Regions from separate parts of the Homo sapiens genome. Here region 1 is linked to region 2. A link means that fine-mapping ties the variant in region 2 to the expression of a gene that starts in the linked region. Tissue or cell type: CD4 T cells. Region 2 holds a variant in brackets; the other region holds the start of a gene. All regions are shown on one strand. Distances are from middle to middle.

Evidence for each region. PIP is the estimated chance that this variant, and not a neighbour inherited with it, causes the effect.
Region 1: DCAKD starts here. The variant in region 2 is fine-mapped to the expression of DCAKD in CD4 T cells (CEDAR, PIP 0.95).

What each region holds. Positions count from the first base shown.
Region 1 is chr17:45,047,442-45,055,616 of GRCh38, forward strand. DCAKD (dephospho-CoA kinase domain containing) reads right to left here and starts at 4,191. Exons shown (of 5, transcript NM_001288655.2): 1 at 3,920-4,191. RefSeq lists enhancers at 1-215, 216-746 and a silencer at 3,832-4,331.
Region 2 is chr17:45,009,413-45,017,587 of GRCh38, forward strand. LOC107987243 (a long non-coding RNA gene) reads right to left here and starts at 4,589. Exons shown (of 6, transcript XR_007065771.1): 1 at 4,075-4,589. RefSeq lists an enhancer at 3,212-3,998. The variant T/TTA (reference allele first, on the strand shown) is at 4,895.

The DNA.
Region 1 (8,175 bases), 38 kb after region 2:
CCGGCTAATTTTTAAAAATTTTTTGTAGAGATGAGGTTTTGCTGGGTTGCCCTGGCTAGTCTCTTTTTTTTTTTTTTTTTTTGAGATGGAGTCTCACCCTGTTGCCCAGGCTGGAATGCAGTGGCGCGATCTTGGCTCACTGCAACCTCCGGCTCCCGGTTCAAATGATTCTCCTGCCTCAGCCTCCCCAGTAGCTGGGATTACAGGCACACGCCACCACACCCAGCTAATTTTTGTATCTTTAGTACAGACGGGGTTTCGGCATGTTGGTCAGGCTGGTCTTGAACTTGTGACCTTGTGATCCGCCCACCTTGGCCTCCCAAAGTGCTGGGTTTACAGGCGTGAGCCACCGCGTCTGGCCCCTGGCTAGTCTCAAACACCTGAGCTCAAGTAATCTGCCTGCTTTGGCCTCCCAAAATGTTGAGACTACAAGCATAAGCCACCACACCCGGCCCACTTAGCTTATTAAGAGAAATACTCAAATAAAACTTTGTTAACATTGTTTTTATCAATTGTGTATTTTATAATTGTGACAACTCAATCCAAAAGAAACATTTAATACTCATGATAACACAATTTTAAAAAAGTTTTAATTTTGTATGTATTTTTGTTGCAGAGAAATATGATAAACCAAAGGCTTTCAGGCATAAAATGTATTATTACATGGTCAGGCACAGTATCTCATGCATATAATCCCAGCACTTTGGGAAGTCAAGGCAGGAGGATCACTTGAGGCCAGGAGTTCAAGACCAGCCTGGGCAACATAGTGAGACTCTGTCTCTACAAAAAAATGGAAAAAAAAAAAAATTAGCTGGAATCCCAGCACTCTGGGAGGCAGATCACTTGAGGCCAGGAGTTTGAGACCAGCCTGCCTGGCCAATATGGCAAAAGCCCATCTCTACTAATAATACAAAAATTAGGCCAGGCATGTTGGCTCATGCCTGTAATCCCAGCACTTTGGGAGGCCGAGGGCGGATCACGAGGTCAGGAGTTTGAGACCTGCCTGGCCAATATGGTGAAACCCCGTCTCTACTAAAAATACAAAAATAGCCAGGCATGGTGGTACATGCCCATAGTCCCAGCTACTCAGGAGGCTGAGGCAGAAGAATCGCTTGAAACCGGGAGGCAGACGTTGCAGTAAGCCGAGATCGTGCCACTGCACTCCAGCCTGGGTGACAGAGCGAGACTCCATCTCAAAGAAAAACAAAACAAAAATTAGCCAGGCGTGGTGGCATGCACCTGTAATCCCAGCTACTCAGGAGGCTGAGGCTTGAGAAGCATTTGAACCTAGGAGGTAGAGGCTGCAGTGAGCCAAGACTGCGCCACTGCACTCCAGCCTGGGTGACAGAGTGAGACAGACTCTGTCTCAAAAAGAAAGAAAGAACCATAAAAATAGCCAACCAGCAGCACAAGGGCTGTTCTGCCTATGGTGTAGCCATTCTTTATTCCATTATTTTCCTAATAATCTTGCTTTCATTTGGAAAAAAAAAATTGGCTGAGCATGGTGGCGAAAGCCTGCAGTCCCAGCTACTGGGGAAGCTAAGGTGGGAGTATTGCTTGAGCCCAAGAGGTCAAGGCTGCAGTGAGCTGTGATCCCGCCACTGCACTACAGCCTGGGTGACAGAGACCCTGTCTCAAAAAAACAAAAACTATTACATTAGAAAAAACTTCTGTGAGGAAACAAAGTGGAAATATGAGTTCAAGAAGGAAAAAGGGCCAAGCATGGTGGCTTACACCTCTAATCCCAGCACTTTTGGAGGCTGAGATGCAAGGATCACTTGAGACCAGGAGTCAGCCGGGGCAACATAGCAAGACCTCGTCTCTACTAAAAATAAAAAGAAAAATCAGCCATATGTGGTGACAGACACCCGTACTCTTAGTTACTTTGGTGGCTAAGGTGGGAGGATTGAGCTCAGCAGGTCAAGGGTGCAGTAACCAGTGACTGCCACTGCACTCCAGCTTGAGCAACAGAGCAAGATCCCATCTCGGAAAAAATAAAGGAAAAAAAGAACGATTTGAAATTTCGATGGTTAAATAAAAAGTGGTTCTTTTTTTTTTTTTCAAAAGATGAGGGAAATCAAATCAAATGGTGTATATTTAGACTTCACTGCAGGTTTAAATGAGGATTTTAACAGCTTTATTTTAAAATATCAACATTCACAATTAACCAGAACTTTTATCCTCTGTAATCTTCAAAATAAAAATGTGAAAGTTTCAATCTAAAGCTATCAATCTAAAACTGTGCCAGCAGGTAATTTTCTTTTTCTTTTCCTTTTTTTTTTTTTTTTTTTTTTTGAAACAGAGTCTTGCTCTTGTCACCCAGGCTGGAGTGCAGTGGCACGATCTCAGCTCACTGCAACCTCTGCTTCCTGAGTTCAAGTGATTCTCCTACCTCGACCTCCTGAGTAGCTGGGATTGCAGGCACCCGCCACCACACCCAGCTAATTTTTTTGTATTTTTAGTAGAGATGGAGTTTCACCATGTTGGCCAGGCTGGTCTCAAACTCCTGACCTCAGGTGATCTGCCTGCCTCAGCCTCCCAAAATACTGGGATTACCAGGCGTGAGCCACCGCGCTCGGCCTCCCAGCAGGTAATTTTTTCTTTCTTTCTTTCTTTTGAGAAGGAGTCTCACTCTCTTGCCCAGGCTGGAGTGCAGTGGCACGATCTCGGCTCACTGCAACCTCAGCCTCCCGGGTTCAAGCGATTTTTCTGCCTCAGCCTCCCGAGTAGCTGGGACTACAGGCATGCACCACCATGTCCGGCTAATTTTTTTGCATTTTTAGTTGACACGGGGGTTTCACCATGTTGACCAGGCTGGTCTCGAACTCCTAACCTCGGGTGATCCACCCTCCTCAACCTACCAAAGCGCTGGGATTACAGGCGTGAGCCACCGTGCCCGGCCCAGAGGGTAATTTTCAAAACAAAGCTAAGTTCGTGGCTTGCCTGCCTTCAGCTATCAGCCCTCTTCTTCTCTCCTTAAGGTACAGGCACCAAGAGGGGCTCGGAGACCATTTAAACGTTATTTACCAAGGGGACAGATTCAGACCTTGGTGAAGACAGACAGAGGAGGATTTGGTGGGAATTTAGGGCCCTGCTGAGACAAAAACCACCCGAACCCGTCTGTCCACTTTCTATCCATCTACCAGATCTCTAGCATTTCACCCCTTTCCCCAGGCCTATGCCAGCACTGTGCCACACCAACTCAATCTTGATTTATTCAGGTAAAATGAGCACTCTCCCTCCTGCAAAAACAAACACGTTTAAGACATAAAACATATTCAAAGGCTTCCATTTCCTCACCGTTAGAATTGAGACTTAATGTCAAAGTTCACTTGGGTAGGTTGAATCATTTTCCCACAACTAAGGGAGAGTGAAAAATCTTTGAAAACTCTGTAAGCAAACACCTGAAATGCCAACGCCTCCTTTGCGGAGCTGGGGAAGGAAGAGACGGGTGGCCGGATGGCCTCCCTCACTAGTTGGTGGGCGTGAGATCCACGCCGCCCCAGTCCCGGGGGCCTTCACTAAAACCTTAACTGGCCTCCCAGGGGAGAGGGAAGCGGAGGAGAGGGGTCTGAAAATCGGAGATGATCACTCAGCTCAACAGTAAAGCACTTTATACCCACCCTATGGGACAGATACTGTAGCTTTATTCCCATTTTTCAGATGAGCAAACTTGGGATCGGAAAGATACCCCAAGGTCACACAACTGAAGTGGCAGAAGCTAGATTCAAGAATCAATCGGCCCGCAAAGTTCTAAAGGGCAGTGGCTTTGGTCTGATCCTGAGTTTGAATCCACAATCTCCAGCCCTTTCTAGCTGTAAACCTTCCTGCGCGTCCTCAGCCGTAAAACAGAGGAAATAACACGTTGCTTGGTAGGGTTGCTGTCAAGACAATGGGCCGTGGATATAAAAGCACTTGCCTTAGTGCTGGCCGCATACGACGCGCTCAATACATCGTAACTCAGGCTTTCAAAAGAGGCCCGTACGCCCCACTAGGCCGCGAAATTGGGTCGCCCGGGGCGGTGGCAGCCCCGCGTAGCAGCCGCGGCCAGGGCCCGCCCCCTCCCCGGCGCCCGGCTGGCTCTCACCGGCCCGCGTGGCGCGCTACGTACCCAGCGCCTCCGCCGTGGCCCAGGCCTCCGCCTCTAGCCCAATCTCCGCAGCGCTTACAGGCCGGCTCAGCGGGCGAGGCGGGACCTCGGGAGCGCGCGCCTGCAGACCGGACGTCCGGCCAGCAGGCGGGGCCGGGAGAGGTTGGACGGGCGGGGCCGGGAGAGGTTGGGTGGGCGGGCGGGGCCGGGAGAGGTTGGGCGGGCGGGCGGGCGGGGCCGGGAGAGGTTGGGCGGGCGGGCGGGCGGGGCCGGGAGAGGTTGGGCGGGCGGGCGGGCGGGGCCGGGAGAGGTTGGGCGGGCGGGCGGGCGGGGCCGGGAGAGGTTGGGCGGGCGGGCGGACGCGGGAGAGGTTGGGCGGGCGGGCGGACGCGGGAGAGGTTGGGCGGGCGGGCGGACGCGGGAGAGGTTGGGCGGGCGGGCGGACGCGGGAGAGGTTGGGCGGGCGGGCGGACGCGGGAGAGGTTGGGCGGGCGGGCGGACGCGGGAGAGGTTGGGCGGGCGGGCGGACGCGGGAGAGGTTGGGCGGGAGAGGTTGGGCGGGAGGGCGGCCGGACGGACGCGGGAGAGGCCGGCGGGGAGAGCTCGGCCCCGGAGCACGGCACAGAGGTCCCCCGCAACCCCCGACCCGGAGCCATAAATTTTCCTTTCCCCGGAGCCGGGAAGGAGAGGGAGAGAGAGGAGAGGGGCAAAACTGCAGGGTCCTAACTTCGGATATAAAGCTCGGCCACTCGCTACTTGTGCAGCCTTGGCAGAGGTGATCATGAGCACTTTCCACCTGCCAGGTCCTAAGAGCACTTTGTGGGATTATCTCAGCCCGCACAGTCCGCAGGGTGGATACTATCATCATCCCCATTTTACACAACAGGAAACTATGTTTAGCGGTTAATCCATTTGCCCTCTCATACAAAGTCATGTGATTGCAGAGCCCGCATCCTGTCCATACAAGCCTAGCAAGCCACTCAGCCTCTCATCCTGTCTCCTCTCAAAGTGGGGATAATCGCAGCCGTGCAGCGTTGTTGAAAGAATACATAAAAGCCGGGCACGGTGGCTCACACCTGTAATCTCAGCACTTTGGGAGGATCACTTGAGCCCAGGAGTTCGAGACCAGCCTAAACAAGAGTGAGACTAACCCCCGATCTCTACAAAAAAAAAAAACAAAAAACAAACTAGCCAGGCATGGTGACAGTGTGGTCTCATTTACTCGGGAGGCTGAGGCAGGAGGATGGCTTGAGCCCAGGAGGTCAAGGCTGCAGAGAGCCATGATGGTACCACTGCACTCCAGCCTGGGCAACAAAACGAGACCTTGCCTCAAAAAAAATAAAGCATCTAGGCCGGGCGCTGTGGCTCACGCCTGTAATCCCAGCACTTTGGGAGGCCAAGGCGGGTGGATCACCTGAGGTCAGGAGTTTGAGACCAGCCTGGCCAACATGGCAAAATCCCGTCTCTACTAAAAATACAAAATTAGCCGGGCGTGGTGGTGAATGCCTGTAATCCCAGCTACACGGGAGGCTGAGGCAGGAGGATTGCTTGAACCCGGGAGGTGGAGGTTGCAGTGAGCCCAAGATCCGGTCACTGCACTCCAGCCTGGGAGACTACAGCAAGACTCTGTCTCCAGTTAAAAAAAAAAAAAAAAAAAAAAAAAAACTAGTTATCTAGTTATGCCTCACATATAGCAGGAAGTTGTTTTTGTTTTTTTTTTGTTTGGTTTGTTTGTTTGTTTGTTGAGACAGAGTTTCGCTCTATTGCCCAGGCTGGGGTGCAGTGGCAGGATCTTGGCTCACTGCAGCCTCTGCCTCCCAGGTTCAAGCGATTCTCCTGCCACAGCTTCCCGAGTAGCTGGGACTAGAGGTGTGCGCCACCACATCCAGCTAATTTGTTTTGCTTTTGAGATGGAGTTTTGCTCTTGTTGCCCAGGCTGGAGTGCAGTGGCATGATCTCGGCTCACTGCAACCTCTACCTCCCGGGTTCAAGCGATTCTCCTGCCTCAGCCTCCCAAGTAGCTAGGATTACAGGCATGTACCACCACACTCGGCTAATTTTGTATTTTTAGTAGAGATGGGGTTTCACCACGTTGGCCGGGCTGGTCTGGAAATCCTGACCTAGGTGATCCACCCACCTCGGCCTCCCAAAGTGCTAGGATTACAGGCGTCAGCCACCATGCCCAGCACATCTGGCTAATTTTTGTATTTCTAGTAGAGATGGGGTTTGGCATGTTAGCCAGGCTGGTCTCAAACTCCTGACCTCAGGTGATCCACCCACCTCGGCCTCCCAAAGTGCTGGGATTATAGGCATGAGCCACGGTGCCTCACCAGCAGGAAGTTTTTAATTAACACCTACCCTGTCTCCCTTCCCTTTCCTTAAACTGTATCTCTATTCTCTACTTCCTTTAAGGTAGGAATCTTGCCTATCTACTACTACAATACCCAGTGCCCTGCACAGTAGGGATTCAGTATATTGAGGAATTAAGTAATTTAACATCTTTCTCAGATCACCTGAGTCCCTGAAAGCTTTCTTCCTGACTTCAACAGTCAAGGAGACCTACTGCCATCACCCAATAAAAAGGATTCCATCTTGTGTCCAAAAGGGCCATTTGGTACAAACACCCTGCCAGTATTTGAATCTCTTCCACATTATCTCTGCCATGTATACATGTACATGTCCCATGTTGGGGAACTCACTGCCACTCAAGACAGTTTTATTTATTTTTTTTTTTGAGACAGAGTCTGGCTCTGTTGCCTAGGCTGGAGTACAATGGCGTGATCTCAGCTCACTGCAACCTCCGCCTCCCGGGTTCAAGTGATTCTCCTGCCTCAGCTTCCCTAGTAGCTGGGATTACAGGTGCCTGCCACCATGCCAGGCTAATTTTTACATTTTTAGTAGAGATGGGGTTTCACCATGCTGGCCATGCTGGTCTCGAACTCCCAACCTCAGGCGATCTGCCTGCCTCAGCCTCCCAAAGTGCTGGGATTACAGGTGTGAGCCACCACACCTGGCTGACAGTTGTTATTTTTTCAAGTCCAGTCTTGGCAGTTAGAAAGTTCTTTCTTAGGCAGTATCTCTCCTAGTTTTAAACCGTGGGGCCATACAGAACAAATCTAATTCTATTTTATAGAGCCAGATTTAATGGCTCAATTCCCTTCCTTGATCAAACAATGTATAGCTAACCTAATCCTGTGGTTCTCACCCTTTTCCCTACTCCTGACACATCCAAGGGATACCCAGACTCCCACCAGTAATCATGGCTGGCCAAGACAGGGATAGGAACAGGCCTGGCCTGTCCCCCCAAATTATCTGGATCTTCCTGGGACACAGTGTTAGGAAACCGTCCAGATGACCCTACTTTTCTCAGATACTGCCTTACAGTATTATAACTATTCATGTACAAGTGAGAGCCTTGTCTTCCAAGGAGGTATCCTTGTGGTCCGATTTGCCAAAAGCAGCTGCACCTCTGCCCCAGGAAGATCCCATAGGAAAGGGTGAAGGGCTGCTACAGGGCCTTCAACCCAGGCACCTCCTCCATAATGAAACTTGGGCTTTGGAGTTTCCATGTGATGCCATCAAGGGCTTTTTCAGCTCAAATATATGTCTTTCATGATTCAGGATGGCAATAAGAAACTTTGAGCTGGCTGTAGCTACTTACACAATCTCATTTTATCCTGAGAGTGGCCTGCATCTCAGTCACCTCTGTGTCCTTAGCATTTAGCATGATGCCTGGAATACAGTTCTGCTTCTCATTTTGTTTGATGAACAACCCTGAGTCCATTAGAGATGACTCCTTTGGCTCCTGGTTTTAAATTTATTTTCTGTACGTTTATTTATTTATTTATTTATTTATTTATTTTTGAGACAGGGTCTCACTCTGTTACCCAGGTTAGTGCAGTGGCACGATCTTGGCTCACTGTGACCTCTGCCTCCCAGGCTCAAGTGATCCTCCCATCTCAGCCTCCCACTGAATAGCTGGAACCACAGGCACACACTCCTCACTTTCTAAGCTCCAGTCCTAAGTCATATCATTCTCATTGCCATACCTCAAAAGCACCCAAGTCTCAGGCACCTGGACTTTC
Region 2 (8,175 bases):
GTCTGGTTCCTCTGGCCAGTGCCCAGCTTCCCCACGCTCACTATCCTCTGGGCCTGGGGCATGCTAAGCCCCAGGAGTCAAGGTGGGACTCTGAAGGGATCTACTCCCCTCCCTGCACCTCTCAGCCAATCAATGTCTGCTCTGCCCTCCCTGACTTCAGCAGAGTTGGTGCCAGATCCTGGAACTCACTGATTGGTTGAGGGAGCAACCCCTCTGCCCACCCCTCACCATGGAGGCTTTTGGAGAGACCTAGCCATGGGCAAGCTTTGTGCCCTGCAAATGGCTCAGTGGTACCAACCACTGAGCTGCCTGCCCCTGGGCCCTCATAAGACCATGTCTGCAGCCTCAGTGGCCTTCTGGGCACGGCTGGCCTCCTGGTCAGCAGCTGTAGGGGTGAGTCACGGCTCTCATTAGAGCTTAATTAATCAATTGAGCTAATCAGACAGCTGTGATGTGCTGTGGTTGCAGATGGGGGGGAGAGGGAGAGAGTTGGAGCGTGAGGGACTGGTAAGGCGAGCTGGGGCTGGCAGGGCCTGGAGTGGCGGCAGGGCCTGGAGTGGCAACAGAGTCTGGTGGGTTGGCAAGGGCGGAGGGCGCTGGAAAGGAGGATGAATGATCCTGACAAAGGCCCGTGATAGGTTGCTCTGAAAGGTGACCTTGGCAAGGTGCCAGAGACCGAGGCTGGGGGAGGAGGAAGCAGGACCTCTCCCACCTCCAGCTTCCTCTCTCATTTTTTATCTTGTTAAGTGTGTCTCCAAAGCTTTTTGAAATCCTCCACTGAATGGGATGGGAAAAGGAGACAAAGACAAAAAAAGGTAGGTCCTCACATTCCCAGTGATCCCAGTCTGATGGGGGAGGCCAGAGGTCTACTGGCAGCACAGACAGAGACCCAGACTAAGAGATGGAGACAGAGACACGGTGTCTCTCCAGGTGAGCTGCTCAGGCTTGGACATCTGGACTGGGTGGATGGGGAGGAGCCAGAGGGACCAGAGCCAAGGGTAGGCGGGAGTCCAGTAAGAATATTGGGAGGAGGGGAGCGCCTGAGCGGGTTTTACAATGTGATGTGCAAAATCTTGTTTCATCTATTTTTTTCTCACATCCGACCTTGGTGTTACCTTGGGGTGGGGAGCGAGCAGGGCAGGAAGTGCAATGGTGGGAAATGGGTTCCGAGAGGACTCATGGACAGCTGGGATAGCTCTGCCCTCCAGGGGCTTCCATTTCCAGAGGCTTACCGGGAGTCTGAGGCTGTGAGAGAGAAAGATCCAGGGCCTGGGACATGCAAGGGGCTACGGGAGATGGATCAGAGGAGGGCAAGCATTTCTGATGAGGCTACCTGGTAAGGATTCCTCCCAGAAGAGGTGGCATTTGAGCCAGGTCTTTCAGAATGGATGGATTTCAATCAGCAGAATTGGGTGTGGAGAGGAAGAAGGATGTTGCAGGAGGAGAAGCGGCCCAGGCAAAGGCAGAGAGGCTGGACAGCCTTAGGCAGGGCCAGTTGGCACAGCAAGTTGGGCCGGAAACAAGGTTACTGTTTGTGTCAGGTGGAAAGAGCTTGATGGTGAAGGGCTCTTGGAATCCCAAACCAAGGAGTTTGAAAGGGAATTTGGTAGACACTAGGAATCACTGTAAGTCTCTAACTGGGAAGAATAGGCTGAAAGTAGCTGTACAGAGAGGATGTCTATGGAAACAGTTCTTTGTAGGATGGAACCAAGAAGGAAGAAACCTGAAACAAGAAGAAAGAAATGGCAGGTGTGGTGACTCACACCTGTCATCCCAGCACTTTGGGAGGCTGAGGCAGGCAGATCACGAGGTCAGGAGTTCAAGACCAGCCTGGCCAACATAGCGAAACCCTGTCTCTACTAAAAATACAAAAATTAGCTGGGCATGGTGGCACATGCCTGTAGTCCCAGCTACCCGGGAGGCCGAGGCAGGAGAATCGCTTGAACCTGGGAGGTGGAGGTTGTGGTGAGCCAAGATTATGCCACTGCACTCTGGCCTGGGCAACAGAGTAAGACTCTATCTCAAAAAAAAAAAAAAAAAAAAAGAAGAAGAAGAAGAAGAAAGAAAGAAAGGCCGGGCGCGGTGGCTCATGCCTGTAATCCCAGCATTTTGGGAGGCCAAGGCGGGCGGATCACTTGAGGTTGGGAGTTCGAGACCAGCCTGACCAACATGGAGAAACCCTGTCTCTACTAAAAAATACAAAAGTAGGCAAGCATGGTGGTGCATGCCTGTAATCCCAGCTACTCAGGAGGCTGAGGCAGGAGGATCGCTTGAACCTGGGAGGGGGGAGGTTGCAGTGAGCCGAGATTGTGCCATTGCACTCTAGCCTGGGCAACAAGAGCAAAACTCCGTTTCAAAAAAAAAGAAAGGCCAAGTGCAGTGGCTCACACCTGTCATCACAACACTTTGGGAGGCAGAGGTGGGAGAATTACTTGAGGCCAGGAGTCCAAGGTCAGCCTGGGCAACATTGAGAAGCCCCATCTGCACAAAAAAAGAAAAAAAATTAGCTCGCTGTGCTAATGCACTACAGGTGCATGCACCTGTAGTCCTAGTTACTTGCAAGGCTGAGGAGGGAGGATCACTTGAGTCCAGCAGTTGTAGACTGCAGTGAGCTATGACCATGCCACTGTACTCCATCCTGGGTGACAGAGCAAGACCCTGTGTAAAAATAAATACATAAATAAGTAAAAGAAGAGGCTGGGCCAGGTGGCTCACACCTATAATCCCAGCACTTTGGGAGGCTGATGCAGGCAGATCATTTGAGCCCAGGAGTTTGAGACCAGCCTGGGTAACGTGGCAAAATCTGGTCTCTACCAAAAATACAAAAAATTAGCTAGATGTGGTGTTGCGTGCCTAGGGTCCCAGCTACTTGGGAGGCTGAGGTGGAAGGATCTCTTGAGCCCAGGATGTTGAGGCTGCCATGAGCCATGTTTGTGCCACTGCACTCCAGCCTGGGTGACTGAGGGAGATCCTGTCTAAAAATAAATAAATAAATAAATAAATAAATAAATAAATAAATAAAGTTAAATCCCAGATCTATCCCTTAGTTGCAGTCTGCAAAAGAAATAACTGAGGGGCTGGGCACCTCAAAGTGTAATCCTAGCACTTTGGGAGGCTGAGGCAGGTTGATCACCTGAGGTCAGGAGTTCAAGACCAGCCTGGCCAACATGGCAAAACCCCGTCTCTACTAAAAATACAAAAATTAGCGGGTATGGTGGTTTGACTATAATCCAGCTTCTCCGGAGGCTGAGGCAGGAGAATCGTTGAATTCTGGGGGCGGAGGTTGCAGTGAGCCAAGATTGCGCCACTTCACTCCAGCCTGGAAAGAGTGAAACTCAAAAACAAAAACAAAAACAAAGATATAACTGAGGGCTCACTGTGGCTCTCGGGACCTGGCAGGTGGGCTGGGGGCTTGGTCCTGGGGTAGCCTGGTGCTTCTCTCCACACTCCTCCCCAGGCAGGGCAATTGTGCAGCTAGGACAGGGAAGACCAGTGGGAAGTAGGGGCTGGGACCACTTGGGCACAAGATCAGCTGGCCCAGGTGTGAGATTCAGGTTTCCAGGTCCCCTTCCCTGGCTCCCAGCATCAGCAGAAAATGTCAGACTAGACCCACGAGGGCCTCCCAGCCAGCACTCGGCTGCCTTTGCATTGCCCTGAAATAGCCCTGTCCACTCCTTCCCACAAACCCTCGCGCCTAGAGCAGCTGAGAAGGAGGTCCTGGGTATCCTGGCCCCACCCCAGCGTGTCCAGCTCACCCACTGCTGGATGTGCTGTGTGGCTCTCAGAAAATCACACCCTTTCTGGGCCGCCCATCCTACCCTCTTTCTCCAGCCTCCCACTGAAGTTGGAGGGCCCCTGCAGACTCTGGGAGTACAGCCAGCAATAGCCAACCAAGGGAGGGGCGGCCTCAAAAGGGGCTCCCTCCCTCCCTCCTCACTTTCTCTTTTCCTCGCGCACGTTCATGGCTTACAAGCATACTGTCTTTGTATAAGAAACCTTTTTACAGCCTTTAAAGCAGGGTTGATCACAGCTATTCCCATTTGAGTGATGGTGCAGTTCCAAGAGGGGCCTTACCTTAGATGCTACAGCCAGAAGACTAGGCACTGACTGGGAATGAGAAGTACCCAAGCCCAGCTGTCAGGCTCTTCCCTCCAAACCAGCTGCTCTAGTTGCCAGGAGACTCTGGAAAGGAGAGCTCAGTGTCTGCCCCAGCCCGGCCCCTATCCTGGCGAAGTGGTCATTAGTCTGCCTCCCCCAGAGAGCCCCTGCTGGGGCACTGTAATGCCTCAGAGGCCAGAAAGTTGCTCCCACCCCCAGCAAAAGGGGGGCTCTGCCCTGTATTTCTCAGGGGCTCACTTCACCTTCTGCCTCCAGAGGTCCCTCCTCACTATCACAGGGAGGGGGCAGGGGTCGGGGCAGAAGCTCCTATCCTGTGGGCTTCTCATTCCAGATCTCTGCTGGCCCGGTGCGGTAGCTCCTGCCACATGTGGCTTCAGGGCACCTGGAATGTGGCTAGTGCCACATGCTGAAATGATATTTTAGATATATTGGGTTAAGTTAAAAAATATTATTTGAGGCCGGGCGCAGTGGCTCACACCTGTAATCTCAGCATTTTGGGAGGCCGAGGTGGGCAGATCACCTGAGGTCAGGAGTTTGAGACCAGCCTGACCAACATGAAGAAACCCCATCTCTACTAAAAATAGAAAATTAGCCAGGCGTGGTGGTGCATGCCTGTAATCCCAGCTACTCGGGAAGCTGAGGAAGGAGAATCACTTGAACCTGGGAGGTGGAGGTTCCAGTGAGCCGAAACTGCACCATTGCACTCCAGCCTGGACAACAAGAATGAAACTGTCTCAAAAAATATATATAATATATATATATAATATATATAATA[T/TTA]TATATATATTATATACTATATATAATATATAATATATATAATATATACTATATATATTATATATAATATAATACATATTTAATTTGAATTAATTTGAAGTGTTTCTTTTCACATTTTTTTTTTTTTTTTTTAGACAGGGTCTCACTCTGTTGCCTAGAGTGCAGCAGTGCAATCACAGCTCACTGCAGCTTCGACCTCCTAGGCTCAAGTGATCCTCTCAGCTCAGCCTCTCATGTAGCTGAGACTACGGTATGCGCCACCACTCCTGGCTACTTTTTTTGTAGACGTGACATATCCCTATGTTGCCCAGGCTGGTCTTGAACTGATCCTCCTGCCTCAGCCTCCCAAAGTGTTGGGATTACAGGCGTGAACACCGTGCCTGGCCTGTTTTTACTTTTTTAAATGTGACTATTAGAACATTTAACAGTACATTGGCCGGGTGCGGTGCTTCACGCCTGTAATCCCAGCACTTTGGGAGGCCGAGGCAGGCGGATCATGAGGTCAAGAGATGGAGACCATTCTGGCCAACATGGTGAAACCCCGTCTCTACTAAAAGTACAAAAATAAGCAGGGCGTGGCAGTGCTCGCCTGTAGTCCCAGCTACTCAGAAGGCTGAGGCAGGAGAATTGCTTGAACCCAGGAGGCAGAGGTTGCAGTGAGCCGAGATCACACCACTGCACTCCAGCCTGGCGACAGAGCGAGACTCCGTCTCAAAAAAAAAAACCAAAAACAGTACATTGGCCTGGCATGGTGGCTCATGCCTGTAATCCCAGCATTTTGGGAGGCCAAGGTGGGTGGATCACCTGAGGTTGGGAGTTCGAGACCAGCCTGACCAATATGGAGAAACCCCATCTCTATGAAAAATACAAAATTAGCCGGGCATGGTGGCGTATGCCTGTAATCCCAGCTACTCGGGAGGTTGAGGAAGGAGAATTACTTGAACCCAGGAGGCAGAGGTGCGGTGAGTGGAGATTGCGCCATTGCACTCCAGCCTGGGCAACAAGAGCGAAACTCCGTCGTCAACAACAACAACAACAACAACAACAACAACAACAGAACATTTAACAGTACATATATGGGCTGGGTGCAGGGGCTCATTCCTGTAATCTCAACACTTTGGGAGACTGAGGTGGGAGGATCACTTGAGGCCAGGAATTTGAAACCAGTCCGGGCAACATAGTGAGAGCCCCATCTCTACAAAAAATACAAACAAATAAACAAGCAAAAAATCCCCCAAAACTAGCCAGGTGCTCAGGAGGCTAAGGTGAGAGGATTGTTCGAGCCCAGGAGGTTGAGGCTGTAATAAGCTATGATTGTGCCGCTGCACTGCAGCCTGGGCCACAGACGGAGACCTTGTCTCTTAAACAAATTAGTTTAAAAAAATTTTTTTAAGTGTATATGTGGCTTACAGTATATTTCTAGTGGGCAGGGCTCCCCAGATAACAATAGCCCCTCAGCCCTGTCCAGTGTTTTGTATAATCTCTTTTAAAAACTCTGAGACCAGTGGGGTAGGGGCCACCTGCCTCTATTTTACAGACAGGGAAGGTGAGACTCTATGAGGTCAGATGACTTGGTCAAGGTCATATAGCCAGGAAGGGGTGGAGGCCCAGGTTTTCCTGACTCTAGATCTGAGACAATCCAGAGAGATGTCCCTGCTTCCCCATGGGCATTGACCCACACTGGATCACTCACTACACCCAGCCCCTCCTGCAGCCACTGCCCCCTTCCCACACTCCAGGAATCTTCCACTAGAAACAGCCCCCTGACAAATCCCATTAAGACAAATGCCTCTTGGGCCTCTGTTGAAGCCGAAGTCTGATTTGAGTTAGACTCTGGCCTACGATTCCCCGTCAAAGCTGCTGCCTTCACCCTGCAACTAAAGCCATGGCTCCTTTGTACCTGCTGCCACTCACATACATCAGGGTAGAAGAAGCAATGGCCACTGCTCCCTGGGACATGCCCATTTCTCTCCCACCCATACTCCTCCACCTGGGTTCCGCCTTATCTAGCTACTCCTTGAAGATGGGCATATTCAGTGATTCTAGGGGACTGTTTCTTTAATTTCCCCCCCGTCTGTCCCTGGAACGTGATAAAAATACCCAGCATTGATCTTTTTTTCTTCCCTTTCTGCCAGGATAATGTTTACCCAGGTGTCAATCAGGAGAAGAATTTGGCTTCCTAATTTCTCTTCTCCTCCCTGGGGGCCGCACATCTCCCTGCCTCGCATGGACACTGAGCTGGAATCAAGGTTACTAATAATCCCCCAGCACACACAGACACCGAAAGCACATATATTAAAGTCACATATTGATTTATATTTTCGGGTCCCTCTGCCTTTCTGCCCAGCCTCAGCCTTTCTCTTTGCCAAGGAGAAAAAAGAATTACACAGCCATATTTTTCGCCAAGATGTTTAGTGTAAAGAGCATTGTGTCTGAAGGTAATTCCCGCTCTCCCACCCTCTTTGCGGGTATTTTAAAAAAATAGTGTGGCATTGCCTATCCATATGCATTTATCTTTTTGCTGTTCGTTGTTTCAATTTTCCCTGAGGGTACCAAAGAGAGATTTAAGGTAGACTGTCAGAAGGTCTTCCTGGCTTGACAAATGGTGGGCTGCCATCTCCAAAGAGGCTGGTTGTTTCGCCAGCAGAGATAATCCTATTGCAGGTAGGGGTGGAGTGGGTAAGAGTGAGTGTAGAAGGCAGGGCAATGGATTCAGCAGCCTCTAGAGGTCACCCCAGGCTGGGTGTGGTGACTCATGCCTGCAATCCCAGCATTTTGGGAGGTCGAGGCGGGAGCATCACTTGAGGCCAGGAGTTTGAAACCAGCCTGGGCAACATGGTAAGACCCTGTCTCTAAAAAAAAAAAAAAAAGAAAAAAATTAGCCACGCATGGTGGTGCACATCTGTAATCCTAGCTATTCGGGAGAGTCACCTGGGCCTAGAAGTTCAAGGTTACAGTGAGCTATGATGGCTCTGCTGCACTCTCATTTGGGCTAGAGTGAAACCCTGTCTCTAAAAAAATTAAAAAAATAATAAAAGGCCGGGCACAGTGGCTCACACCTGTAATCCCAGCATTTTGGGAGGTCAAGGCGGGCAGATCACGAGGTCAGGAGATCAAGACTATCTTGGCCAACATGGTGAAACCCCGTTTCTACTAAAATACAAAAAATTAGCCGGGCGTGGTGGCGCACACCTGTAGTCCCAGCTATTCTGGAGGCTGAGGCAGGGGAATCGCTTGAACCCAGGAGGCAGAGGTTGCAGTGAGCCGAGATCGCACCACTG